Linked DNA regions of Homo sapiens. The protein of the gene in region 1 binds, or shares a complex with, the protein of each later gene. Each region holds a gene or a part of one and is shown on either strand. Other genes may lie near its edges.

Region 1 (7,026 bases):
GCCCTTCTAATTTTTTGTATTTTTAGTACAGACAGGGTTTCACCATCTTGGCCAGGCTGGTCTTGAACTCCTGACCTTGTGATCCACCCACCTCAGCCTCCCAAAGTGCTAGGATTGCAGGCGTGAGCCACTTCGCCCGGCCTCTTGTTTCTTTTTTTTTTTTGAGACGGAGTCTCTCTTTGTCGTTCAGGCTACAATGCAGTGGCTCCATCTCTGTTCACTGCAACCTCCACTTCTGGGTTCAAGTGATTCTCCTGCCTCAGCCTCCCGAGTAGCTGGATTACAGGCATGCGCTACCACACCTGGCTAATTTTTGCATTTTTAGTAGAGACGGTTTCACCATGTTGACCAGGCTGGTCTTGAACTCCTGACCGACCTCAAGTGACCTGCCCCCCCCCTTGCCCTCCCAAAGTGCTGGGATTACAGGCGTGAGCCACCATGCCCAGCCTATAAGACTTGTTTCTGCTGCCTCTCATGCTCAGTGGCTTGTTTCCATTTCCTTGTGTGTGTCTAGTATTCTTTAGTATTTGAGCTTATGCTTAGGGCTCAAATCTTTTTTTTTTTTTTACCCCCCTTTGGAGATTTTTTTTCTCATTGGAGATTTTGCCTTGCTTATTGAAAGCCCAACAGTGCATTAAAAATTTAATAAGTATCTAGTTAAATTATAGTGGGAACATCTCTCCAAGTAGCTCATCTGCCAAGTCTATATATAGAAATATGTGGTCTTATTGTGAAACTTGCCCCTTCTCTTTTTTCCCCTCCCATTTAACAATATATTAGATATCTTTCTATGTCATTATCTCATTCTTTTTCATGGCTGTGAAGTATTCCTTTGTATGAATAGATAATAATTTAACCATTCTACCATTGCAGGACATTAGGTTGTTTCCAGTTTTTTTTTTAAATTACGAAATTACAGTAAACACATTCATATGTATGTCTTTGTGCGTTTCTGCTAGTATTTCTGTAGGATTGATTTCTATAAGTGGCATTAGTGGTTGATGAGATTTTGATTAAATAATGTCAAATTGACCTAAATAGGCTATGCTAGTTTATACCTGTACCAGCAGTGGCTGAAAATACCCATTTTTCCTGTACCTTCTTTTTTGACTCTAGATATTATTGATCTTTTTAATTTTACTAATTAAGGAGAGAAAATTCATATTTCTTTTAGAATTTGATGCTTTGGTTATTAGGGTAAGCATATCTTCATGTATTTATTGGACATGTAATTCTTTTTTTTTTTTTTTCAAGACAGGGTCTCTGTTGCCAAGGCTGGACTGCAGTGGTATGATCATAGCTCACTTCAGCCTCGACCTCCTGGGCTCAAGTGATCATCCCACCTCAAATTCCGAAATAGCTGAGATTACAGGTGCATGCTGTCGTGCCTGGCTAATTTTTGTATTTTTTGTAGAAATGGGGTTTTGCCATGTTGCCCTGAGCTTAAGCAGTTCTCCTGCCTTGGCTTCCCAAAGTGCTGGGATTACAGGCGTGACCCACTGTGCCCGGCCCTTGGACATTTATTTCTTCTGAAAATTGTTCATTTTTCTGTTCTTTTTTTATTTTTGAGACAGAGTCTTGCTCTGTCATCCAGGCTGTAGTGCAGTGGTGGAATCTTGGCTTACTGCAATCTCTGCCTCCCAGGCTCAAGCGATCCTCCCACCTCAGCTTTCCGAGTAGCTGGGACTACAGGCATGCACCACTGTGCCCAGCTAATTTTTGTATTTTTAGTAGAGACAGAGTTTCGCCATGTTGCCCAGGCTGGTCTCAAATTCCTGGGCTCAAGCGATCCATCGCCTTGGCCTCCCAAAGTGCTGGGATTACAAGTGTGAGCCACTGGCACCTGACCATTTATCAGTTTCTCTGTTGAATTATTTCTTATTGATATATTAATATGCAGTAGTCTCCCCTTATCTGTGGTTTCACTTTCTGCATCTGAAAATATTAAATGGAAAACTCCAGAAAAAAACAACTCATAAAATTTAAATTGGTCACTATCCTGAGTCACTTGGTATAAACTTCTGCTGTCCCACCAGGAACGTGAATCCTTCCTTTGTCTGGTGTATCTGTGCTGTATGCGCTACCTGCCTGTCCATCACTTAGTAGCCATCCTGATTTTCAGAAAACTGTTGCAGTTTGCAGTGCTTGGATTCAAGTAACCTTTATTTTATTTAGTAGTGGCCCCAAAATGCAATAGTAGTGATTTTGGCAATTAGGAATGCTAAAGAGAAGCTGTAAAGTGCTTCCTTTAAACGAAAAGTTGAAAGTTCTCAACTTAAAGAAATTAAAACAAAAAAAAACTTTTCAAATCATATATTGAAGTTGCTAAGATCGATAGTAAGAATGAATCTTCTATTGTGAAATTGTGGAGAAGGAAAAAGAAATTCATGCTAGTTTTGCTGTTGTACCTCATACTGTAAAAGTTATAGCCACAGTTCACAAGTGCTTAGTTAAGATGGAAAAGGCATTACATTTATGGGTGGAAGACATGAACAGAAATGTGTTGCATTTGATGGCAGTCAGGTTCGGTACTATCCGTGGTTTCAGCCATCCACCATACTTAAAATGTATCCCCCTGGGACTACTGTATGGTTTGTGTTGCAAACATTTTCTACCAGGCTGAATTTTTTTTTTTTTTTTTTTTGAGAAGGAGTTTCACTCTTGTTGCCCAGGCTGGAGTGTAATGGCGTGATCTCGGCTCACTGCAACCTCTGCCTCCCAGGTTCAAGCGATTCTCCTGCCTTAGCCTCCTGAGTAGCTAGGATTACAGGCATGTGCCACCACACCTGGCTAATTTTGTATTTTTAGTAGAGACAGGGTTTCATCATGTTGGTCAGGCTGGTCTGGAACTCCTGACCTCAGGTGATCCACCCGCCTCGGTCTCCCAAAGTGCTGGGATTACAGGCTTGAGCCACCATGCCTGGCCTAGGCTGATTTTCATTGCTATCTTTTTCAAGAAATCATGGTATGTTTCTCCATTTCTTCACATCTTTAAAAAACATTTATTTTAATGAATTTTTACAGATTTCTTCTTATATGTCTTTCATGTTTCTTAAGTTTATTTCTAGGTATTGAATTTTTTTTTTAACTATGGAAGTAGGATTTAAAAACTTACTATTATATTTTCACTTTTGGCATGAGAGAAAGCTAGTTTCTTTCTTTACATATCTTGTACCTGACTACTTAACTCTTAGTTCTATTTTCTGTATATTCTTCCCTGTAAGTTTGCCCATAGTTACCTTTGTTCTGAAAAGGAGGGAATTATTTTTCCTTCTCCTTTCTGGACTAAATAGTCTCTTGTTTTTAGGGCTGTGGACCTGGACTTGTGCTATTAGGGCTATAGTTGAATAGCAGCATGGGATATCATCTTTGTGGCCTTGCGAGGGAACATAACCACCAGACATAATCTTATTTCTGTGGGAAATGTTGTTCTAAATGCCAAAGTCCAAATTACAAGACTTTTTGCATGCACTTCGTTCAAAAAGAACAAGATTTGGGCTGCCTTTAGATTGTGCACTGCGTTTAAATTACAGAATCTGTTTGAATTTTAGGAGCGTGAGGATCATCCCCGGAGAGGACGGGAGGATCGGCAGCACAGGGAACCATCAGAACAGGAACACAGGAGAGCTAGGAACAGTGACCGGGACAGACACCGGGGCCATTCCCACCAAAGGAGAACGTCTAACGAGAGGCCTGGGAGTGGGCAGGGTCAGGGACGGGATCGAGACACTCAGAACCTGCAGGCTCAGGAAGAAGAGCGGGAGTTTTATAATGCCAGGCGACGGGAGCATCGCCAGAGGAATGACGTTGGTGGTGGCGGCAGTGAGTCTCAGGAGTTGGTTCCTCGGCCTGGTGGCAACAACAAAGAAAAAGAGGTGCCCGCTAAAGAAAAACCAAGCTTTGAACTTTCTGGGGCACTTCTTGAGGACACCAACACTTTCCGGGGTGTAGTCATTAAATATAGTGAGCCCCCAGAAGCACGTATCCCCAAAAAACGGTGGCGTCTCTACCCATTTAAAAATGATGAGGTGCTTCCAGTCATGTACATACATCGACAGAGTGCGTACCTACTGGGTCGACACCGCCGCATTGCAGACATTCCAATTGATCACCCGTCTTGTTCAAAGCAGCATGCGGTCTTTCAATATCGGTAAGTAACATGGAGGAAGAAACTGTAATGTGAGCAGAAACAATCACTCAGTTAGGATTACTAAGATTTTTGTTCATGTTTATGCAGAAGAATCCCATACCCCTCATATGTTATCTAAAGAGTATTGTTAATCTAACTGCCCTTTAAATAATTGCTTACATATTTATAAGAACATTAAACTTTTAATCTATTTTTTATTTTTTTGTGACAAGGTCTCACTCTGTCACCCAGTCTAGAGTGCAGTGGAGCAAACACAGCTCACTCCAGCGGCAACCTCCTGGGCTCAAATGATTGTCTCCTGCCTCGGCCTCCTGAGTAACTGGGACCACAGGCGTGTGCCTCTGTGCCCAGCTAATTTTGAAACTGGATCTTGATAGCTTGCATGGGACATCTGTGATGATTCTCACAACAATCCTGTGAGAAGGATAGGATAGATTTTTTGTTTTTTGAGACGGAGTCTCGTTCTGTGCCCAGGCTGGAGTGCAGTGGCGCGATCTCAACTCACTGCAACCTCTGCATCCCGGGTTCAAGTGATTCCCCTGCCTCAGCCTCCCGAGCAGCTGAGAGTACAGGCACACACCAGCACACCCAGCTAATTTTTGTATTTTTAGTAGAGACGGGGTTTCATTGTATTGGCCAGGCTGGTCTCGAACTCCTGACCTCGTGATCCGCCTGCCTTGGCCTTCCAAAGTGCTGAGATTACAGGTGTGAGCCACTGCGGCTGGCCCGTTTTGTTTGTTTGTTTTTTAACATGGTCTCCTGACTTCGAATGGACACGTATTTGTATCCCCATTTGACAGATGAGAAGACTGAAGCCCAGCAAAACCAAGTGACTTGCCTAACAAATGATCACTATAGTACAGTGGTCCCCAACCTTTTTGGCACCAAGGACCAGTTTCATGGAAGACAGTTTTTCCATGGAACCGGGGGAATTCGGGATAATTCAAGTGCATTACATTTATTGTGCACTTTATTTTCTAATACTATCACATTGTAATATATAATGTAATAATTATACAACTCACCATAATCTAGAATCAGTGGAAGCCCTGAGCTTGTTTTCCTCCAGCTTGATGGTCCCATCTGGGGGTGATGGGTGACAGTGACAGATCAGGCATTAGATTCTCGTAAGGAGCGCGCAACCTAGATCCCACCTGTGCACAGTTCACAATAGGGTTCATGCTCCTACGAGACTCTAATGCCACTGCTGATCTGACAGGAGGCGGAGCTCAGGCAATGATAATTCAAGTGATGGGGAGCAGCTGAAAATATAGATGAAGTTTGGCTCGCTTGCCTGCTTGCCCGCTGCTCACCTCTTGCTGTGTGGTCCGGTTCCTAACAGGCCACGGACTGGTACCAGTCCATGGCCCAGGAGCTGGGGACCCCTGCCATAGTAGAACTCTGGCTCAAATATAGCTCCCTTGACTCTGAAGTCCAAGTGCACTGTTTTTTCCCATTTGGACAGGAACTAAAATATATTGAAATATAGGTTAAAGAAACATTATGTTGATTATAAACAACAGAAAAAAATGTATTTTCTTAACCACAGCAAGAGACATTGGATTCTGCATTTCCACCTTTTGATCTACCATGGATTCTCCCCACCTTCCAGCAACTCATTCTCACCTTTTTTTTTTTTTTTTTTTTTGAGACAGAGTCTCGCTCTGTTGCCCAGGCTGGAGTGCAGTGGCGTGATCTCGGCTCACTGCAACCTCTGCCTCCTGGGTTCACGCCATTCTCGTGCCTCAACCTCCCAAGTAGCTGGCTCCACAGGCGCCCGCCACCATACCTGCCTAATTTTTTTGTATTTTTAGTAGAGACGGGGTTTCACCATGTTAGCCAGGATGGTCTCCATCTCCTGACCTCGTGATCCGCCCGTCTCGGCCTCCCAAAGTGCTGGGATTACAGGCGTGAGCCACCGCGCCCGGTCCATTCTCACCTTTTCTAAGTATATTTAAACTTCCAATTTTCCTTCCCAGGGCCATGCTTTCCCCTTGATTTCTTTGATTCCCTAGAATTTTAACTTGAATTGTGCTCAAGCCAGGTTATTTACGTCATCTAGGCTATCTTAGCAAAGAGCTTTAGAGAAGCTGGATGATCTGAGGCAGAAGTTTGCTCACAGGTTTCTCCTTTTTTTCTGCTAGGCTTGTGGAATATACCCGTGCTGATGGCACAGTTGGCCGAAGAGTGAAGCCCTACATCATTGACCTTGGCTCAGGCAATGGAACCTTCTTAAACAACAAACGTATTGAGCCACAGAGATACTATGAACTAAAAGAAAAGGATGTACTCAAATTTGGATTCAGTAGCAGAGAATACGTCTTGCTCCATGAGTCGTCGGACACTTCTGAAATAGACAGGAAAGATGACGAGGATGAGGAGGAGGAGGAAGAAGTGTCTGACAGCTAGCAAACTAAGAACCCAAACTATTGATACACGGTTTCCTTCTTGGAAGTCTTTGATTGACTCAGAGAGCACTATGGTGGTGGGTCCAGCACTATGGTGCTCTCTGTAATGCCTCTTACTGCCTTAAGTCTTTCCTCTGTTGCTGACCAGATTGTGTTACCATTTGAATACACTGACTAATGTTTGTTAAACTTTTTCTGTGGCACCTTGGCCACATGCCTGCAGGCATTTGTTTTCAGAACAGTCTCACCAATTACAACACACCGTGTTTTAGTAGAAGTGTTGTGGTTTTAGTTGGTGCTTTCAGAACTGCTGCCTAGGAAACTATAAACCCTTGGTTAAGGGGAAATCATGGCTTGTTCTCTTTGTACAGTTACTTTATTTATATAGGTGTTAAGCTTTGTGGACCAGGTGTTTTTCTTTTGGGGCGAACCCCTGAGCAGAGAATCTTACTAGGCTTTGGTTATCAC
Region 2 (7,026 bases), about 13 Mb from region 1:
TGGGAGGCCGAGGCGGGCAAATCACAATGTCAGGAGATTGAGACCATCCTGGCTAACACGGTGAAACCCTGTCTCTACTAAAAATACAAAAAATTAGCCGGGCGTGGTGGCGGGTGCCTGTAATCCCAGCTAATTGGGAGGCTGAGGCAGGAGAATGGCACGAACCTGGGAGGCGGAGCTTGCAGTGAGCTGAGCACCACTGCACTCCAGCCTGGGCAAGAGTGCAAGACTCTGTCTCAAAAAAAAAAAAAAAAAATTAGCAGATTCTACTATGCCAAACAAAAAAACTAAGCTAAAAGGAACTTTGGTAGACAGAACTCTAACTTGAGCATTTTTTTTTAGGATTGTGAAGTTGTACTTAATTGTTTCTATGTTTCATCAGGTGGACATGAGCAAAGTAAATTTGGAGGTTATAAAGCCTTGGATAACAAAAAGAGTAACGGAAATCCTTGGGTTTGAAGATGATGTTGTGATTGAGTTTATATTCAACCAGCTGGAAGTGAAGGTACTAATATACAAATGGCTCTTGTTTCTGAATATGTGATATAATTTGTGAATCTTTGGAAACTGAATTTTTTCTATGGAGTGCAAATATAGAAGGGTTATTTTACAATGTTTGTTGTGAAAAGAATTCACTTTGTAAACAACTATTAAGGCTGGAAGTTTAGTGAAGGTGCATAGTTTTGAAAGCTACACAGGTGAAAAATCAAACTTATTGTTTGTAATTTTGCTGTTACATGTTAAGTTACTTTGACAGCAATTTTCTAATGATAATGTGATTTATGATTTAAAAGGCCTGAACCAAAATGGAAGTTATTCCTTGCGTCTGAAGTATAGCACCATCACCTTATTAGGTCACAGCAGAGTGAGTGTCCCAATGTCGCTCTGACCCAACTCCCTTGATGATGCAGTGTGTGTTTGGAGGTGAGTTGTGTAAAGTGGCCAAACATCAACAACAACAACAAAAAACACAAACAGGAAAGAGCAATTGGGTAAAGCTGTACACTGCTCTTTTAAAATACTATTATGAGATGGACATTTATGTGAAGCATGAGGGGCAATTCTGATTTGATTGGATATTGTTTTTAAAGGAACTAAGGTCTTTGTAGCTGCATGTCAGCTAGTCATCAGTTACATTTTAGAGACAGGATTTTTGTTTATACTTAAACTTCAGACAAATTGGCAGCATATAATTGTTCCTTTATACATGAGATAATATGATGATATAACTGATGTTTAAGAACATTCTTATTGTAAGACAGTTTCTGTTTTGCCACAGCAACCCAAAGGACAGTTAAGATATGTACCATATGACCTTTTTGCATATATACCAATGTGAATTTACTTTTACATTAATCATTTCCCCCAAAGAGTTCACCCTATGTTTTGACAGAACAGTTGGCATTTCAACTGATAAGGTATTTCTAGTTTTAAAATAATTTGGTGTTTGTATTTTGTTTTGAATATTTTTAAAGACTAATTTTAAGAATGCACTTTCTATAAAGTATATGCATCTTAGAAAACCAGGAACAGGGGAGAAAGTTTTTTAAATGATGATTGAAGATAGATTTTATTGGAGAAATGCTTTACTGATGTGTATTTTAGTGCATTTTAAAAACCTAAGTATCTGGTAGTATTCCCCTTGTAGTGAGCATGAGATTAAAGTTTAGAACTTTTTAAGACAATTCTTTTTTTGTGGTTGTGTACTCATTATTGCTTGTTCGTCTTTTGCAATTTAGATAAATGATATAACATTAAACTCAAGGTGGTTGAGTTGCAGTAGGGAGTCGGAAGCAAGCCAAGGGAACATCTTTCTCTACAGGGGACTTGGCGATTCCAAACCCCCAAGGTTCCAAGAAGAAACTGAAGACACCTGGAATCTGTACTTGCTTTGTGCTATTGAGCTGTGCTTGTTATACAGACCTTGTTGCTTGACCAACGGATTTAGCATTTAAAAACCCAATTATTTTTGAGAAATCTTGACCTCTTAGCACTTTGTGGACAGTTGAGAATTTGAGGCATTGTTATAATAGATTTTCCTTATATAAAACTCAGGCCTTTAGCTTAGCCCTCAGAAGTTACAGACTGCATGCATAACTTGTTAGTTTTCATAACTGGACAATAGATATTTTATGCAAAGCTATCTGTAGTGTTAGGGAGCAGTTTATGTACTTTTTCCGTTTCTCATTGGGGGAAAATTTCCAGGCAAGCAAATACTTTTCTTGTTAGTAAATACTAGAATTTGTGGATGTTTCATGATGGTTTTTAAAGTTAATAAATGTAAGGCCCACTAACAGCCACAGAGTCTAAAAATACTTACGAAATCCACAAAGGATTAACAGGCTGCTCTGATGCTTTTGGTAGAGTGAGAGAGAATTTGGTAATCTGTTAGAGATTATATTGCTGAGAAGCTACTAGGGAAGACTATTTGTAAAATAGTAAGGACTATATATATGTCTAAGCCCCTATGGTAGACTTAAAAAATACTAATTTAAATGAGTTTTAGGTTGGTTGATTTGTTGGTTGGTTGGTTTTGAAGTAACCTGTTTTTCTTCCTGTCGTGTCTTTTTGCAGAATCCAGACTCCAAAATGATGCAAATCAACCTGACTGGATTTTTGAATGGAAAAAATGCTCGAGAATTTATGGGAGAACTGTGGCCCCTGCTGCTAAGTGCACAAGAAAACATCGCGGGAATCCCTTCTGCTTTCCTAGAACTGAAGAAAGAAGAAATAAAACAAAGACAGGTAATAACCTTTTCTTTTCTGTAATGTCGATTTGAGAGTATTGGCCAGGCTGCCGAGACACCTTAGGTAGTATATGACTCAGCTAGGATCTTCATGTAGTTTTGCTTTGCTGTACTGTATTTAAACATTCAGTTTTGGTTCACTGCTCCTCCCTCCAACCAAACATTGAGTTTAGAATGTCATTTTCCCAGTCTAGTGATTTGCTAGATTTTTACAAATTCTTAATATGTGAGTGCATGTAGCTTAAAAGAAATTTGAATTTAACACTGAAAGGTAAGCATAAGGATTTTTGGTTTGTTGTTTTTTTGAGACACAGTTTCAGTCTGTCACCCAGGCTAGAGTGCAGTGGTGTGGTCTCTGCTCACTGCAGCTTTCACCTCCTGAGTTCAAGCGATTCTCATGCCTCAGTCTCCTGAGTAGCTGGGATTACAGGCGCACACCACCACATCCAACTCATTTTTGTATTTTTAGTACAGACGGGATTTTGCCATGTTGGCCAGACTTGTCTCGAACTCCTGACCTCAAGTGATCTGCCCGCCCTTGGCGGGATTATAGACGTGAGCCACCGTGCCCAGCCAGCATAAACTCTTAATATGGGCAATACAGATGAACTCCCAGAAAGAATAAGGTCAATGTGAAAGTGATTTTCTTTTTTATTTTATTTTTTATTTTTATTTTTATTTTTTTGAAGTAAGCTTGAAAACATCTCTTTAGTTCAGGTCTTAGAGATTAACTTTCAGTGAATATTTATTTGTAAATGAGTGGCGATAATACCAGTCTTAATGCGTATCTGTAGTGTAGGTGAAGAAAGAACAGGTCTGGTTCAAAAGAAGAGGCCGATGAAATGATAATAGCATTGGTGTTTAACACACGTAGAAAGTAGTCTTCAGTTTGTTCTCAAATGTTCAACTATGTGTATTTTGAAAACCTGGTCTTTGCAGATTGAACAAGAAAAACTGGCATCTATGAAAAAGCAAGATGAAGACAAAGATAAAAGAGATAAGGAAGAAAAAGAAAGCAGCAGAGAAAAAAGGGAGCGGTCTCGTAGCCCAAGAAGGTATCATACAATAGATGCATAACTGATGTTTTACAGGTACTTTAGGTCTTAAGAAACTTCCTTAGTTAAAAAGGAATCTAACAGCGCTATTCAAGGAATTTGTTCCATCATGCAGTTTTCATGGTGACCTGTGCCTTGCCTCTGGACTAAAGAAATCTGTCATATTTTGTTTGAGACAGATAATTTAGCCATGAGTGTCTCGCAGATGTTCATAAATTATCCAACTCTAAATTCCTAAATCAAAACTTTAAACTTTTTCTTCCATATTGCTTTAGTTCATAACAGTTAATTTGGGTTTTTAAAAATGTACTCTGACTCACTTTTTCTTTCCATTTCCTTTCTTCTAAAAAGAAATCTGTACTCGAAATCTGTACTCATTAGCCGTTCATGTAATACTTACCTAATTCCCTGTTCTGCTTTTCTTAGATGGTTGTACTGAACCCAAACTTCAGATCATTTATTTGTTTTCTTCTTCCAGTGAGACTATTGTTAGGTTCACATTTTTAAATCCACGGCTCAGCTTCTATATTTGTGGTGAAAGGTGAGAACTCCATTAGGCTTTTTATTTTTAGGGTTCTGCTTATTTCTTTCATAAATGTCTGCTGGAATTAGTAAAGAGAAGAGGTAATTTCTTTGTCCCTTTCATTTATATATTTGATACTAAAATCTCCTTATGGAAGTAATATTTATAGAGCTAAGCACAAATTGTCATGGTGGTAACTACTTGACTATTGATGAAGTATGTCTGCCATTTTCCTTCTGTGTGAATAAGAGAAAAACCCTTCGAGTTAGGCAGGCTACTGTTAAGAAAGAGGGCTTCTCCTCTCGCAAAAAAGCTATCTTCTGGATGTTTGATGTATATTTCTCTTTTCTGAAGAACATGTTGCTTTAATGGTATTAGTCATTTTTCTGGCATACTGAGGCTCTTCCTGATGAACTCCATTGTAATCTGTCCGCATCTAAATGTTTTATGTTTGGGAGTTTGATTTGTTGTCAAGGATTATCATTGTTTGCTTTAAAGCATCCTCTTTGCCTCTGAAAAGTTGGTCTTTTGATCTCTGGGAATGATTAAGAACCTAAGTCTAGAGTCCCAAGTTAGTGCTTTTCTCCCTTATAACTGATATACTCGAGAATGTTATCTTTCATTTGCTTGTCTTTCTCTTCCCTGTCAAGTAGATTAGGTTAGCATGTCTTATTTCCATAGGGAAACATCTCAGATATAAACAGTAGTGTAACTAAAGATTAATCCTCACTTCTCCCTTTGACTCCTCTCTTCCAATCCATGTTATTTAAAAACCTGAAAAAAATTACTTTCATCCTAGACGCAAATCCAGATCTCCTTCCCCTAGAAGACGATCTTCCCCTGTCAGGAGAGAGAGAAAGCGCAGTCATTCTCGATCTCCCCGTCACAGAACCAAGAGCCGGAGTCCTTCCCCTGCTCCAGAAAAGAAGGAAAAAACTCCAGAGCTCCCAGAACCTTCAGTGAAAGTAAAAGAACCTTCAGTACAAGAGGCTACTTCTACTAGGCAAGTATATAAAAATTCATTTATAAATAATCACAATTTTAGATTAATAGTGACTGCAAATATGACATCTGAGTTAAAATAAAACTACTTATTTTCCTTTTAGATTTTTTAAATTATAAAATTAGTTTGTTGAAAAGAAATTGTTTAGGAGAGTATATTAGAAGAAAATGCCCCAGAGGGTGACCATTACTATCTTTTGGTTGTATTGTTTCAGGTATTTTATATATTGTAACTTGCTTTTTTTCCTCAACGTATTGTGGACAACTTCGCACTTTTAAGAAATGTATGTGGTTGCCAGATGCGGGGGTGCATGCCTGTAATCTCGGCACTTGGGGAGGCTGAGGTGGGTGGATCGCTTGAGCTCACAAGTTAGAGAGCAGCCTGGGGCAACATGGTGAAACTCCATCTGTACTAAAAATATATATATATATATATATATATATATATATATGTACACACACACACACAAATTAGCCGGGCATGGTTGGCACATGCCTATAGTCCCAGCTACTCAGGAGGATCACTTGAGCCTGGGAGGTTGAAGCTGCAGTGAGCCAAAATCATGCCAGTACACTCCAGCCTGAGTGACAAGAGTGAGACCCTGTCTCAGAAGAAGAAAAGAAAATGTACATGGTTGGAATTATTAGTTGCTCTCTGGGTTTCAGTGATAGGTACATACATACTTATGTGTCTTTTGGAGATAGAGACAAGTCTGTGAATTTTGAAAAGTTTTAGAAATACTTTATTACATCATTGTGTAATGATTTAGAAGGCTGAGTACAAGAAGGCAAAAAAAAAAAAAAAAGCTTTTGTTTCCACAGTGACATTCTGAAAGTTCCCAAACCTGAACCTATACCAGAGCCTAAAGAACCTTCTCCGGAAAAAAATTCCAAAAAAGAAAAGGAGAAGGAGAAGACCCGACCACGATCTCGGTCACGCTCCAAATCAAGATCCCGGACGCGGTCCCGCTCTCCTTCTCACACTCGACCTAGACGGCGCCATAGATCCCGATCAAGGTGAGTTGTGGCTTTAAGATCAACAAAGATCTTAGGTTTTATATACTACTCTACTGGGTACAATTAGATAAATAATTTCAAAGTGGTAGAAGATGTTTAGTACAAATATTTTTTGAATGTACACAGAGAATTTGAGGACACTTTTCTGTGTACCATAAAAATCTACATAAATGGAAAATTTTGATCTTTGAAATTTATTTTTTAGATGTGGCCATTGAGAAAACTAAGCCAAGAAATTCCTCACTCCTGGTTTATTCAGGACCTAATTCTCTTTGTTATGGCAGATCGTATTCACCTAGAAGGCGGCCAAGCCCAAGAAGGCGGCCATCTCCTCGAAGAAGAACTCCGCCAAGAAGAATGCCTCCTCCACCAAGGCATAGAAGGAGTAGATCTCCAGTAAGACGGTAAGATTTTTTAAATTTGGAAGTGTCAAGTGTTTGACACTTCTGGATAATCTTTCTTTTAGGATAATCTGTAAATTAGTGTCCCCTGGAAGAAAGAACTGATAGGTGATATTAGACAATGTCTTCTAAAGAGTCTGTTTCATTTGAAGTGTAATGCAGTTGTTCGTGTTATGAAAAGTGTCTAGTCTGGTGTTGGAAAGTAAACGAGAAATTCATCTTATTGATACTTTTCTGTTAACTTTTACCCTTCTAGACTTCACCAAGAAATCATACTAAGT
Region 3 (7,026 bases), on another chromosome or scaffold:
GTGAGCCACCGCTCCCAGCCTTTTTTTTTTTTTTTTTTTCTCTCTGTCAGCCAGGCTGGAGTGCAATGGCGTGATTGCGGCTCACTGCAACCTCTGCCTCCCGGGTTCAAGCGATTCTCCTGCCTCAGCCTCCCAAGTAGCCAGGGTTATAGGTGTGCACCACCATGTCTGGCTAATTTTTTGTATTTTTAGTAGAGATAGTTTTCACCATGTTGGCCAGGCTGGTCTCAAACTCCTGACCTCAGGTGATCCAGCCACCCACCTCAGCCTCCCAAAGCACTGGGATTATAAGCGTGAGCCGCCACACCCGGCCTTCTTTGATGCTTTTGCTAGCCCCTTACAGTCGACACCTTGGGCAGCTTTTTACCATGAGCCTGCAATTGGAATAAGATTTTCCTCTTATGTCCTCACAGAAATACCTTGTACTTTTCTTTCATAATGCCCATCAGTTTGTAACCACATACATGTGTGGATAATGATTGTTTACTGTATCTCTCCCCTGCTAGAATGTATCTGTTTTGCTCACCCCTGCTCTTGGCACGCAGCAAGTACTCAGTAAATTTTTGTGGAATAGGCTGGATGTGGTGGCTCACACCTGTAATCCTAGCACTTTGGAAGGCTGAGGCAGGAGGATTGCTTGAGCTCAGGAGTTCAAGACCAGCCTAGACAACATGAAAAAACCCCGTCTCTACAAAAATACAAAAATTAGTTGGGCATGTTAGTGTGTGCCTGTAGTCCCAGCTACTTGGGGGGCTGACGCAGAAGGATCACTGGAACCTTGGAAGTTCGAGGCTGCAGTGAGCCAAGATTGTGCCACTGCACTCCAGCCTGGTAACAAAGTGAGATCCTGTCTCAAAAAAAAAAAAAAAAAAAAAATTAGGGAATGCTCTGCCTAAGTTTCACTGCTGCTTATTGGACATTGCTTCAGGTACCACATCGAGGTGAACCGTGTTCCTGCTGGCAACTGGGTTCTGATTGAAGGTGTTGATCAACCAATTGTGAAGACAGCAACCATAACCGAACCCCGAGGCAATGAGGAGGTAGAGTTTCTGAAGAGACCAACTGGGTTGGCTTAAGCTAGATGGTCCCAGGGACACACATGAGCACAAACGGGACTAATCCACAGTCATTGCCATGTCCTGGTTTCAGGCTTAGCCTTCTAGATATGACCCTGCTGGATTCTCCCTGTACTCAGTTCAGATGCGAGGAATTAGGACGGGTGCCTTTTATTATTTTCCTCCTCTCTTTGTTCTGCCAGAATACCTGGGAAGAAATGGCCCTTCAGGTTACCCCCACTCAGCACCAGGCTCCTGGTTGGGGAATACATAGTCTGATCCTAAGCAAGTCCTCTTCTCTTCTCATACCTCTGCACTTTCTGTGCCTGCTCATGCCAGTTGCCCTCAGTCCTTTGTGCTTTGGATCTCAGGCTCAGATTTTCCGACCCTTGAAGTTCAATACCACATCTGTTATCAAGATTGCTGTGGAGCCAGTCAACCCCTCAGAGCTGCCCAAGATGCTTGATGGCCTGCGCAAGGTCAACAAGAGCTATCCATCCCTCACCACCAAGGTATGCCCATGGCCTGCAGCAGCCGCCAAGCCCCACTATCCCCAGCTGAATGGGCAGAGCTGCACACCGCTTCCCATCCATCAGGTGTTCATGATCTGCTGCTTACAGGAAGCTGTGTCAGGAGCAAGCCCAGCCTATGGCTGTCATGTCAAGGCAGGACAAGACACGTGTGTGTGTGTATGTGTGTGTGTTAAAACAAGACCTGTGTAGGAGGGGGCAGTGATGGGGGGTATAGGACAAGGTTGTGTGTGTGTGTGTGTGTGCGTATTTGTGTTCCGCAGATGTCTTTATCTAGACAAAAATACATTTCTTAATGAGTATACTTTGAATTGATTTTCTCGAGAAGAGAAGGAAAAGTGAGTTGTTACTCTGATCCTTGTACACTATGAGCCTGCCAGTGTACCTTTCCAGGTAGCAGGCCAGGAGGGCTAAAGGGCTAGCTTATGTCCATGGGTATAGGGTAGAGTTTGACCTAAATCATTAAGATGGGAATTAAATCATTGACTTCACACCTAGTATCACCATGCTGAGTGGTCCTGGTGTCTTGAGGACCCACTCATAGGCAGATGCTCCTCACTGAACCTTCTTGAAGAGGCTGGAACAGATGCTAAGTAGTAGCTGTTTCTGATAGGCAACTTCTTGTCTGCTCTGGCCTTGATTTTGTTTGTGTGTGCCTTTGCTGGCATAAGAGAATCCAGGCTGTGACTGCCTGTTGTGTTTCAGGTGGAGGAGTCTGGCGAGCATGTGATCCTGGGCACTGGGGAGCTCTACCTGGACTGTGTGATGCATGATTTGCGGAAGATGTACTCAGAGATAGACATCAAGGTACAGCAGTATCTGCCGGGAGCTGGGTTCACGGTCCAGACTTTTCACAAGTGACCAAATCCTTGAATTCCTGGGAAGCTCCAAGGGAAGAGAGAGTACATGTGTTTGTGAAAACCATGATCTGTTGCTCCTTATATGGGAAGGTTTTTGAGAACTGGTTTGCCCCCTTCTGCTGTGTCATACGTTTAAAATCAAGGCTCAGCCGTGCTTGGTGGCTCACTCCCAGCACTTTGGGAGGCCGAGGTGGGAGGATTGCTTGTAGCCAGGAATTCAAGACCAACCTGAGCAACAAAGTGAGACACTGCCTCTACAAAAATTAAAATAAAAAAAATAGCCAGGCCGGGCATGGTGGTCCGTTGCTGTAATTGCAGCACTTTGGGAGACTGAGGTGAGAGGATTGCTTGAGCCCAGTTTGAGACCAATCTGGGCAACATAGTGAAACCTCGTCTCTACAAACCAGCCCAGTGCAGTGGCATGTACCTGTAGTCCAGCTACTGGGGGGCTTAGGTGGGAGGATCACCTGAACCTAGACTGTCAAGGCTGCAATGAACTGTGATTGTGCCATTGCTCTCCAACCTGAGCCTAGGAGGTCATGGCTGCAATGAGCAATCATTGTGCCATTGCTCTCCTTTTTGAGATGGAGTCATACCCTGTCTCAAAAAACTAAAAAATAAAAATTAGTCAGGTGTGGTGGCTTGCACCTATAGTCCCAGCTACTCCGCAGGCTGAAGCAGGAGGATTGCTTGAGCCCAGCAGTTCGAGGCTGCAGTGAGCTACGATCATGCCACTGCACCCTAGCATGGGTGACAGAGCAAGACCCTGTCTCAAAAAATAAATGCATTGAAAAATAATAAAACAGGCCGAGCACGGTGGCTCACGCCTGTAACCCCAACACTTTGAAAGTCCAAGGCGGTTGGATTGCTTGAGGTCAGGAGTTCAAGACCAGCCTGACCAACATGGTGAAACTCTGTCTCTACTAAAAATACAAAAATTAGCCAGACATGGTGGCGGGCACCTGTAATCCCAGCTACTCAGGAGGCTGAGACAGGATAATTGTTTGAAACCGGGTGGCAGAGGTTGCAGTGAGCCAAGATCGCACCATTGCACTCCAGCCTGGGTGATAGGGCGAGACTCTGTCTCAAAAAAAAAAAAAAAAAAAGGAAAAAGAAAATAAAGGCTCCCAAGCCAAAGTTATTCTTGGTCCTTTGTTAGGGAAATAATTGCACAATTAAACAATTAACCCATGGGTGGTGATTAGGTCTCAGAGTGGGTGGTTTCAAGGAGAGGGTGGGGACTGTCTCTCCCAGATTCTTTGTCAAGCCTTGATGTAGCCCCTCAAACCATGTGTTGCTTGGCCTCCTTGTCCTAGTTGAGTCGTATTTTCTCCAAGGCCCTGTGGAGGACCCTCAATACCCCTCTTAGACTCCTCTACTGATGTATCTAGGAAGGAGGAAGGATTGGTGTCATAGAAAACACTGGGTTTCCTGGGCAGCAGACCATGTTGGGGCTTCAGGGCAGAGCTTCACTCAGATGCTGTGGGTTGAGAATGACATGGGTGCACGCCAGTGGGTCTCAGCACCAGCTCTGTCAGACCCATGGGGGTTGTTCAGTGAATGGTGGTAGATGGCTGAATGGATGCTGAGAGCTACCTTTGAAGACTAGAATTAAGGCCCTAGTTTGATACCCCACTTACTCTTGGCTCAGGAATCTAATTTCTTTACTACAGTAAGTTTTCTTGGGCTTTTTGGTGATGATTTGGACAGCTCTTTTAACCTGCTGTTGTACTTATCACTTGTGCTGATTAAGGCAGTTGGGGTTTTCACAGAGGTAGTGTCAAGGGAGCTTCTGAATTCCCTTAGGTAAATGGTTGCCCTTCCAACAAAATTAGACCTCGCTTCAGTAATTTATTTTCTGTTTCCCAGGTGGCTGACCCAGTTGTCACGTTTTGTGAGACGGTGGTGGAAACATCCTCCCTCAAGTGCTTTGCTGAAACGCCTAATAAGAAGTAAGCTGGGAGCACAGTGTCCCTGGGACTGCAGCCTCCTGGACACTCTCTCTCCTTTATCTTCCACCTCTACCCCCACCATGAGCACTATGCACATAGAGACCTCTACAGCTCAGAATAGGGGGTGCTTACAATACTTGAGTTTCACTCCAGCCCTCTCAGCCCTTCTGCCTTTGAACACAATGACATGGGATTATTCGCCTTGGGTATTCCCAAGAGGAGTTTCATAACTGCCACTTTGTCTCTATAAAATGACTATCTTAAAAGTTTACTCCAAATCTTACTCACTTTTTGTTTTTTTGTTTTTTTTTTTTTTGACACAGGCTGGAGTGCAGCCTCAACTTTCTGGGCTTAAGCAATCCTCCCAAGCAGCTAGGACTATGGGCACACACCAGGCCATCTGTTAATTTTTTTATTTTTTGTTGTCCAGACTGGTCTTGGACTTTTGGGCTCAAGTGTTCCTCCCATCTTGGCCTCCCAAATTGTTGGGATTACAGGTGTGAGCCACCATGCCCAGCTTAAACCTTACTTTTTTTTTCTTTTTTTTAAGACAGTCTCGCTCTGTCGCCCAGGCTGGAGTACAGTGGCACGATCTCGCCTCACTGTAGCCCCTGCCTCCCAGGTTCAAGCAATTCTTGTGCCTCAGCTTCCCCAGTAGCAGGGATTACATGCACGCACCACCACACCTGGCTAATTTTTTGTATTTTTAGTAGAGGTGGGGTTTCGCCATGTTGCCCAGGCTGGTCTCGAACCCCTGACCTCAGGCAGTCCGCCCGCCTCGGCCTCCCAAAATGCTGGGATTACAGGCATGAGCCACCACGCCCAGCTTAAACCTTACTTTCATAAAGACCAGTAGATTGAAATGAAAGAAAGATGAGCCCTTTGCCCTTTTTGCTCCACCTTGCCCCTGATACTGTGGCTTTTTTTTTTTTTTTTTTTTTTTTGAGACAGGGTCTCACTTCGTCACCCAGGCTGGAGTACAGTGGTGCCACCATGGGTCACTGCAGCCTCAACCTTCCGAGCTCAAGCGATCCTCCTACCTTAGTTAGCCTCCCAAGTAGCTGGGACTACAGGTGTGCTAACCACACCTGGGTTTGTTTTTCTTTTTTTTTTTTTCTTTTGAGACATAGAGTCTCACTCTGTAGCCCAGGCTGGAGTGCAGTGGCTCGATCTCAGCTCACTGGAACCTCTGCCTCCCGGGTCCAAGCAATTCCCCTGCCTCAGCCTCCCGAGTAGCTAGGACTACAGGGAGTGAGTGTCACCACACCCAGCTAATTTTTGTATTTTTAGTAGAGATGGGGTTTCACTGTGTTGGCCAGGCTGGTCTCGAACTCCTGATCTCATGATCTGCCTGCCTCAGCCTCCCAAAGTGTTGGGATTACAGGCATGAGCCATCGCACCCGGCTGGCTAATTTTTTATAGAGATGGGGTCTCTTGCTTTGTTGCCCAGGTTCTGTTTGTTTGTTTGTTTGTTTGTCTGGGGTTTTTTTTTGTTCTGTTTTGTTTTTGAGACAGAGTCTTGCACGGTCGCCAGGCTGGAGTGCAGTGGCACAATCTCGGCTCACTGCAACCTCCGCCTTCTGGGTTCAAGTGATTCCCCTGCCTCAACCTGAGTAGTTGTGATTACAGGCATGTGCCAGCGCACGCCACCACGCCCAGCTAATTTTTTGTATTTTAGTAGAGATGGGGTTTCACCATGTTGGCCAGGGTAGGCTCGATCTTCTGACCTTGTGATCCGCCCACCTCGGCCTCCCAAAATGCCGGGATTACAGGGGTGAGCCACCGCGCCTGGCTGTTTGTTTTTAAGAGGCAGTATGTTGCTGTATCACCCAGACTGGAGTGCAGTGGTGTGAGCCATAGCTCACTGCAGCCTCAAATTCCTGGGTTTCAGTGATCCTCCTGCCTTGGCCTCTCAAAGTGCTGGGATTACAGGTCTGAACCACCACGCTTGGCCCCTGTGGCTTTCACTGATGTCACTTCCTCAGCTGTCCGTCTTGTTACCCTTTTCTTAGTAATGCCTCTTCTGCTGTTCTGTTAGCCGTCCTTACCACCCATTTCCATTCTGACCAGGAACAAGATCACCATGATTGCTGAGCCTCTTGAGAAGGGCCTGGCAGAGGACATAGAGAATGAGGTGGTCCAGATTACGTGGAACAGGTGAGAACAGGGCTCTGACGCCAGGGTCGAAAGGAGGCAGGGATGCCACAGTTTAACTGCCGGGTCTCTAAGAGCACACATCTTTCTGGGGAGCATTTATGTCTTTGCCTTTGCTCTTGTTCTGGGCACAGTGGGTAGGATGAAGTGACTGTCTTCCAGGAAGGGAGGGTCTGTGGCTCCAGGACCAGCAATCACAGAGCTGGCTGACAGCTCCATTGTCTCCTCCCTTCCCCAGGAAGAAGCTGGGAGAGTTCTTCCAGACCAAGTACGATTGGGATCTGCTGGCTGCCCGTTCCATCTGGGCTTTTGGCCCTGATGCGACTGGCCCCAACATTCTGGTGGATGATACTCTGCCCTCTGAGGTACAGCAGAACTGATGGGAACTGGGTGGCGGTCTCTTACCTCTGGAGTGGAAGAAACTACAAAGTGTTCTTTTCCCAAAAGTATCTTGTGTCCTCTGGTGAAGGACAGT
Region 4 (7,026 bases), on another chromosome or scaffold:
ATGATCTTGGCTCACTGCAACCTCCGCCTCCCGGGTTCAGATGATTCTCCTGCCTCAGCCTCCTGAGTAGCTGGGATTACAGGCACCCGCCATCATGCCTGGCTAATTTTTTTTTTTTAATTTTTGTAGAAATGGGGTTTCACCATGTTGGCCAGGCTGGTCTTGAACTCATGACCTCAGGTGATCCACCCACCTTGGCCTCCCAAAGTGCTGGGATTACAGGCGTGAGCCATTGTGCCAGGCCAAGCTTCTCAAATTTATTTTTCCAGCTTAGGGTAGATTTGTAGGGGGGTTAGTTGAGAACAGAAAAGAGGTGACAGTTTCCAAAGAGCTGTTTAAAATAGTTTTCTTTGCTGATGCCTATACACCAACTTGTCTCTTTATGGAGGGTCCATCAGCCTAGAAATGAGATGGATCACAGAGAGAGGACTTCTCGACATCAGTGTTAGAGTAATGATGAGACTTAGCTGTGGTTCATTTTGTTGGAATCTTTCTTAAAAACAATGCTGAGGTTCAGTTATAGGGAACTTTTTATTTGCTCCTTTTTTCAGTGCTTTAACTAAGCTTTCAAATTGTATATTCTTGCCTAAGTACTGGAGATATGTAGATTAATAGAACATAGCTGTATTTTAGAGATTATACCCTAGAATGAAAAACTGAATTTCAGATAAATTTCAACAGTATGGTAAATGTTGGGGATGTTTCACATACGTACCAAGTACCATTAGAGCCCGGGGAGGTAGCATACTTTGTATTCTGTTGGGAGATATCCTGAAAGATGTAAATACTGAGTTTTGAAGGGTAAGTAAGAGCCAGGTGGACAAAATCATAGGCAAATGACCTCCCAGTGGTTCATGAAACCATTGCTGAGAATTTCTGAGAAACAAAGTGGAAAGGAGAGCTGTAGATAGGCTGAATTCCACTAAAGTTGGTAAAGATGGATTCCAGTGAGTATTTAATATTAATTCCCAGCAAAATTCTTTTTTTTTTTTTTTTTTTGAGACGGAGTCTCACCGTGTTGCCCAGGCTTGAGTGTAGTGGTATGATCTCGGCTCACTGCAAGCTCTGCCTCCTGGGTTCACACCATTCTCCTGCCTCAGCCTCCTGAGTAGCTGGGACTACAGGGGCCCACCAACACGCCCGGCTAATTTTTTGTGTTTTTTTTTGTATTTTTAGTAGAGACAGGGTTTCATCATGTTAGCCAGGTTGGTCTTGATCTCCTGACCTCGTGATCCGCCCACCTCGGCCTCCTGAAGGGCTGGGATTACATGTGTGAGCCACTGCACCTGGCCAATTCCCAGCAAAATTCTAAAATAGATTATTTAAAAGAGGGCTTGCTAGTAATTAGAAGGGAAATAGTGATCTTAGGGAGCCAATTTAGTTTTGGTCAGAAGAAGTAAATATTAACAATGTTTGTTGTTTTTTTTTAATTTTATAAAAGCAATGCATATTTATTACAGAATATTTGGGAATTAAAAAAAGTTTAAAGTTTTTAAAAGAATAAACACTTGCATGTTACCATCCAAAGATAACTGCTAATACTTGGATGCATATCTCTTCAGGTTTTTCTCTTTAGAGATTATACACGCTTGTATTTTATTTTTTTGAACATAATTGGGATCATATTGTACATAGGGTTTTGGAGTCTACTCCTCTGCTAAATAATATGTTGTGGATACTCTGGTAAGACCTTAAAATATTCTTTGAGTGTATGATTTTTAACGGTTATGTAGTAGTTCAATATATATATTTTATCTGTTCTGTTACTGGATACATGGATTGTTTCCACTTATAAAATATCATACATCGTTGTACATAAATCATTTGTAGAAATCAGTTTATTTCTTTATTCCCATAAAATGAAATGAGTGGATCAAAGGGTATGGTTCGCTTTAGTTATATTCCCATGTTGCTTTCCAAAAGGTGCTACCAATTTACACTCCCACTAGAGGTGATGAGAATGCCAGTTTGCCTACGTCGTCAATATTAGAGCACTATTATTATTATTATTATTATTATTATTATTATTATTATTATTTTTGAGACAGGGTCTTGCTCTGTTGCCCAGGCTGAAATACAGTGGTGTGATCATGCCCCATTGTAGCCTCTACCTTCCAGGTGCAAGCAATCCTCCTACCTTAGTCCTGCACGTAGCTGGTACCACAGGTGCGCACCTCCATGCCTGGCTAATTTTGGGTATTTTTTGTAGAGATGAGGTCTCTGTGTTGCCCAGTCTGGTCTTGACCTCCTGGGCTCAAGTGATCCTCCTGCCTAGGCCTCCTAAAGTGTTGGGATTACAGGTGTTAGCCACATGCCCCACCAATATTGAAGGATTATTAACAAAACAAAACCAATAGCAAACCTATGCTGATTTAGCAAGTGAGTAATGGTATCCAGTTTCTTTTTTTTTTTTTTTTTTTTTTGGTGGAGTCTCACTCTGTTGCCCAGGCTGGAGTGCAGTGGCGTGATCTCGGATCACTGCAAGCTCCGCCTCCCGGGTTCACGCCATTCTCCTGCCTCAGCCTCCCGAGTAGCTGGGACTACAGGCACCTGCCACCATGCCTGGCTAATTTTTTGTATTTTTAGTAGAGATGAAGTTTCACTGTGTTAGCCAGGATGATCTTGATCTCCTAACTTCATGATCTGCCTGCCTCGGCCTCCCAAAGTGCTGGGATTACAGACGTGAGCCACCGTGCCTGGCCCAGTTTCTTTGAACACTAGTGAAATGAATCATTTTTTATATGTTCATTAGGCTTATGTTGTGGGTGTATTTTATCATTTGCCTTTTCACTTAGTTCATAATTGTTTTTATTATTTTTTTTTTTTGAGACATATTCTCACACTGTCACCAACGCTGGAGTGCAGTGGCTCAATCTTGGCTCACTGCAGCCTCTGCCTCCCAGGTTCAAGTGAACCTCCTGCCTCAGCCTCCCAAATAGCTGGGATTACAGGCGCCTGCCACCATGCCCAGCTAATTTTTGTGTTTTTGGTAGAGACGGGGTTTCACCGTGTTGCCTAGGCTGGTCATGAACTCCTGGGCTCAAGCAATCCACCCGCCTCAGCCTCCCAAAGTGCTAGGATTACAGGAATGAGCCACCGCACCTGGCCATTTTCTTTTATAATATTGTCTTGCTTTTATGATGGCCCAAAAACCTAAACAAAGGAGGCTTTAGTGCCACTGCTCTCTGCATTGGTTAAAACAGATCTTGATTACTGAATTCATTTTTGTAACTGCAAGATCACCACCACCACCAGTAATAATGGTAAAACGATTATGATGATTACGATAGCAGTGGCAGCACAGGAATAATTAATAGGTGTCATTTATTGGGCATTTATCATGTACCAAGCATGGCTAAGCTTACGTGAATTATCTCATTCAATCCTTATAGCAATCCTTTGAATCCCACTTTTACAAATGAGGAAATTGAGGCTTAGAATAATTTACCAAAGGTTACACAAATGCTAAGTGGCCGAGCTGGGGTTTAGATCTTAATTCATCTTGCCCGAAACCTGTGCTTTTAACGCTCAGTGAGAGATCTCAAAACTGGGTTATATGAAGAATGATGGTAGGATTTTGGGAGAAGTAGAGGGCTATTATGACCTGGATTTAAATTCCAGTTCTGCCACTTGTTAGCTTGTGACATTGAGAAAGTTACTGAACTTCTCCGAATCAGTTTGCTATTCAGTAGTGTGGAGCCTTTCTTTACAGGATTATTGTGAGAATCGAGTTAGATTATATGAGTAAACCACAAAACACAGTACCTTGCACATAGTTGCTACTCTGTAACTAGGATTTATTATGCCAGCAATCTTGAAAGTTTGTCATGTGGACTTACATCACAGGTCAGAACTAGAATGAATTCAAAGAAGTTATAGGAAGGCAGATACGGTACTAGTAAAACTAAGAACTTTCTAACATTTTTGAAAAATGCAGTGGACTGTGTTGTAAGATAATGAGTTCCTTGTCAGGAAGGGATTGGGCGAGTGACCACTTATTAGGAATACTATAGAGAAGATTCTGATTTGTTCAGAAGTTTAGAAGATATGAAATGTGGTTTTAGCTCTTAAAGATTAATGATTCTGTGTACATCTCAGTGGCTCTTTTTGGTTGTATTCAAGAAAACCTATCACTGTGACTACCTACAACAAGAAAGGATTCATAGAAACCCAAAGTCCTTGATTAGTGCTAGGCATGATGGGGGGAGCCACCTATGTTTCCACTGTTAATGTAGAAGTAAAAGTGTAAAAGGAATTTAGTTGTTAGTTTACAAGTGGCTGTTGTGTACCTAGCAGGTTAATAAAAAGGTTTGTAATGAAAAAAATTAACCTTTGCAGGGTAATTGATTAATTAGAGAAGGATCTACAATTAAACCAATACAGTGACAATCAGATGTTTATGGAGCAAACATAACTGAAGACCCCTACTTACTTCTTCATGACCATTTTGGATATATGTACGCCCTTGTGTTAGGAATCGGAATGGTTGTAACTTCAGGTTCTTGAGACAGTGCTTCTTGGCTGGATCCTGTGGATTTCCTAAGATAGGAAATCTTTACTCTCACAGGTGGCAGAGTTTGTGGATGAGCGGCCAGAAGAGGTAAAGCAGATGGAGGCCTTTCGTTCCAGTGCCAAATGGAAGCTTCTGGGAGGTGAGTTCCAACAATAGATAAATCTAAATTTCCATTAGTAGGGGAGATCTTTTTTCCTTTTCTATACTTTTCTTTAGAGGAATGCATAGTTTGTTTTAGCATGTCATTGATCCTGAAAAATAAAGCAGGAAAAAGGAAGTTGGACTTCTTCAGAGGTAGTAAGACATAGGAACTTATAGACCAGATATTCCTCTTTCTCTTATATTTTGGCATTAGGATTACTGAGGTTGGTGACTAATTTGGAGGCCTTTGAGCACCCATTCCTCTTTGACTCAGAATAGGAGAGCACTTGGTGTATAGGCAAGACTTTGGGAGGAGTTTACAAGAAACAGGAGCAGAATTTGGGGACTTTAGCTACCACTATCCTCTTCCACAATGAAGCAACTCATTTCTGGGGGGTCAAGGACCAGTGTATTTTGTTCTGTTTGTGTTAGTAAATTTCTCTCTTCTTTCCTTAAGTATTGGTGTTTTATAGTGCATTACCCTCCACTTGCCCACTTTGGACTCTTCCTAAGCTAATAATCTTAATTTAACTCTCTTTAAAAAAATTTGAGTCCTTGAGAATTGGATAAAAAGCATTTGTTTGTCACATCTGTTTGAGCATAGACTAGTCTTATTTGCCATGATATTCCCCTATCTAGCACAAGGAGCTACCTTTAATAAATATTTGTAGAATTGTTTAATTGCTAGTAGGTATTTGATTTTTGTAGCCTAATCAGAATTCTTTTCCAAAGAGAATCTTTTGGTCTCCATGTCTGTTTGTCTAGGAAGACACACAGACACACACATACACACGGTGCCTTTTCTTGTGTATCTGAATGTTTAGAAGGTCAGTCACACACACACACAGTCACACTCACACTCACTCACTCCTTTTCTTCTGCCTTGCTTTCACTCCCCCATCCCAATTTGTTATTGGAAGTACGCTTACCAATCTCTGACCCTTGCTTCCTTCAGATTTACTGTTAGGCCCCCCACAGACATCATACTTTTCTCTGTGGAGTGGATTCCAATCAGATAGGGCTGTTCCCCAAAGTAAAGGAGTTGACTTGGTTTAATTCATCCATTTAACAAGTATTCATCAGTTCCTACCCAGCTTTTATTTGTATTTGGGCTGTGGAGCTCAATGACAAGAAATAGAGGTAGAGGAAGAACTGGATTTTGAAACTGTTCCAGTTGCTATAGATATTTCATTCTGTGGTGCCTTTGAATATGGAAGGTCTCAAACTATGTATTTTAACTTTAAAGCTTTACATATTTTAAAGATTGCACATGGACTCTGGAGTCAAATAGAGCTGGATTTAAATATTCCTCTACCACTTATTAGCAATATGACTTTGGCAAGTTAATCTTTCTGAGTATCAACTTCCTCATCTATAAATGAAATGACAGTATTTATGTCCTAGGCTTGTTGTGAGAATTGAATCAGGTAATCTCTATGAAACACTGGCACACAGTAGGTGATTGGTAATTACTTGCTCCTTTCTTTTTTATGGTGATTTTTCCCCTCTCTAAGAAAGAGCACAGTGAAATGGATTAAATAGTTAACAGCATTTTATTTTGATATTCACCGTTTTAGTCAATTTACCTATTGAAAGAAGAGTGAGTACAAACTATAAAGTATCTAGGCAAAATATCAGTAGGAGCCACTAGCTGGGAACTCTGCACAAATGAGGTTTTAGAAAGAACATTGGACTGGGAGTTAGAAGACTTGGATTCTAGCCTGTGTCTTCATTTTAGGAGCTGTGACCTTAGGTAAGAAATCACTCAGCTCCTCAGCTGAAAACAGAGGCTGTGGCCTCTGTTTTCATGCTGTAATACAAGGGTACCTGCCCTGCTTACCTTAAAGGGTATAATATGAAAAATGTGCTGAAAATGCTTTGCAAATTTATGACTTGGTAGGCGGAGGGGTTATTCTTAAGATATTCATGAGTGGTGGTTTGCTGCCCCTAAGCAAGAAAACTGTGCAGGCCTTTTGGGCTTTCTGAGCAGTTCTGAGGTATGTGCTACTGGAGCATCTTTTGAAACTGGGTGTGGGGGTGGACAGAGGGACAGAGCATTTGTGGGAATCTGACTCTTTGTTATTTGTGTTTAGGCCACAACGAAGACCTACCCTCAAACAGACATTTTCGTCACGATACCCCGGATTCATCTCCTAGGAGGGTCCGTCATGGTACCCCAGATCCATCTCCTAGGAAGGACCGTCATGACACCCCGGATCCATCTCCTAGGAGGGCCCGTCATGACACCCCGGATCCTTCTCCCCTCAGAGGGGCTCGTCATGACTCAGACACATCTCCTCCCAGGAGGATCCGTCATGACTCCTCAGACACTTCACCCCCAAGGAGGGCCCGTCATGATTCTCCAGATCCTT

The links.
Region 2: SNIP1 (region 1) and SRRM1 share a complex: the UniProt entries of both Homo sapiens proteins name them as parts of the minor spliceosome.
Region 3: SNIP1 (region 1) and EFTUD2 share a complex: the UniProt entries of both Homo sapiens proteins name them as parts of the minor spliceosome.
Region 4: SNIP1 (region 1) and BUD13 share a complex: the UniProt entries of both Homo sapiens proteins name them as parts of the minor spliceosome.

The regions. Positions count from the first base shown.
Region 1 is NC_000001.11:37,537,281-37,544,306, reverse strand, and holds part of SNIP1 (smad nuclear-interacting protein 1), read left to right. Parts: intron 1-3,551; coding exon 3,552-4,150; intron 4,151-5,570; exon of another isoform or gene 5,571-5,618; intron 5,619-6,294; coding exon 6,295-6,559; 3' UTR 6,560-7,026. UniProt on the Homo sapiens protein: Required for pre-mRNA splicing as component of the spliceosome. As a component of the minor spliceosome, involved in the splicing of U12-type introns in pre-mRNAs. Down-regulates NF-kappa-B signaling by competing with RELA for CREBBP/EP300 binding.
Region 2 is NC_000001.11:24,646,285-24,653,310, forward strand, and holds part of SRRM1 (serine/arginine repetitive matrix protein 1), read left to right. Parts: intron 1-382; coding exon 383-505; exon of another isoform or gene 506-2,574; coding exon 2,575-2,745; intron 2,746-3,686; coding exon 3,687-3,802; intron 3,803-5,124; coding exon 5,125-5,328; intron 5,329-6,149; coding exon 6,150-6,344; intron 6,345-6,628; coding exon 6,629-6,748; intron 6,749-7,026. UniProt on the Homo sapiens protein: Part of pre- and post-splicing multiprotein mRNP complexes. As a component of the minor spliceosome, involved in the splicing of U12-type introns in pre-mRNAs. Involved in numerous pre-mRNA processing events.
Region 3 is NC_000017.11:44,854,446-44,861,471, reverse strand, and holds part of EFTUD2 (116 kDa U5 small nuclear ribonucleoprotein component), read left to right. Parts: intron 1-928; coding exon 929-1,040; intron 1,041-1,426; coding exon 1,427-1,567; intron 1,568-2,290; coding exon 2,291-2,392; intron 2,393-4,314; coding exon 4,315-4,397; intron 4,398-6,467; coding exon 6,468-6,554; intron 6,555-6,789; coding exon 6,790-6,916; intron 6,917-7,026. UniProt on the Homo sapiens protein: Required for pre-mRNA splicing as component of the spliceosome, including pre-catalytic, catalytic and post-catalytic spliceosomal complexes. Component of the U5 snRNP and the U4/U6-U5 tri-snRNP complex, a building block of the spliceosome.
Region 4 is NC_000011.10:116,762,988-116,770,013, reverse strand, and holds part of BUD13 (BUD13 homolog), read left to right. Parts: intron 1-4,567; coding exon 4,568-4,652; intron 4,653-6,747; coding exon 6,748-7,026. UniProt on the Homo sapiens protein: Involved in pre-mRNA splicing as component of the activated spliceosome. As a component of the minor spliceosome, involved in the splicing of U12-type introns in pre-mRNAs.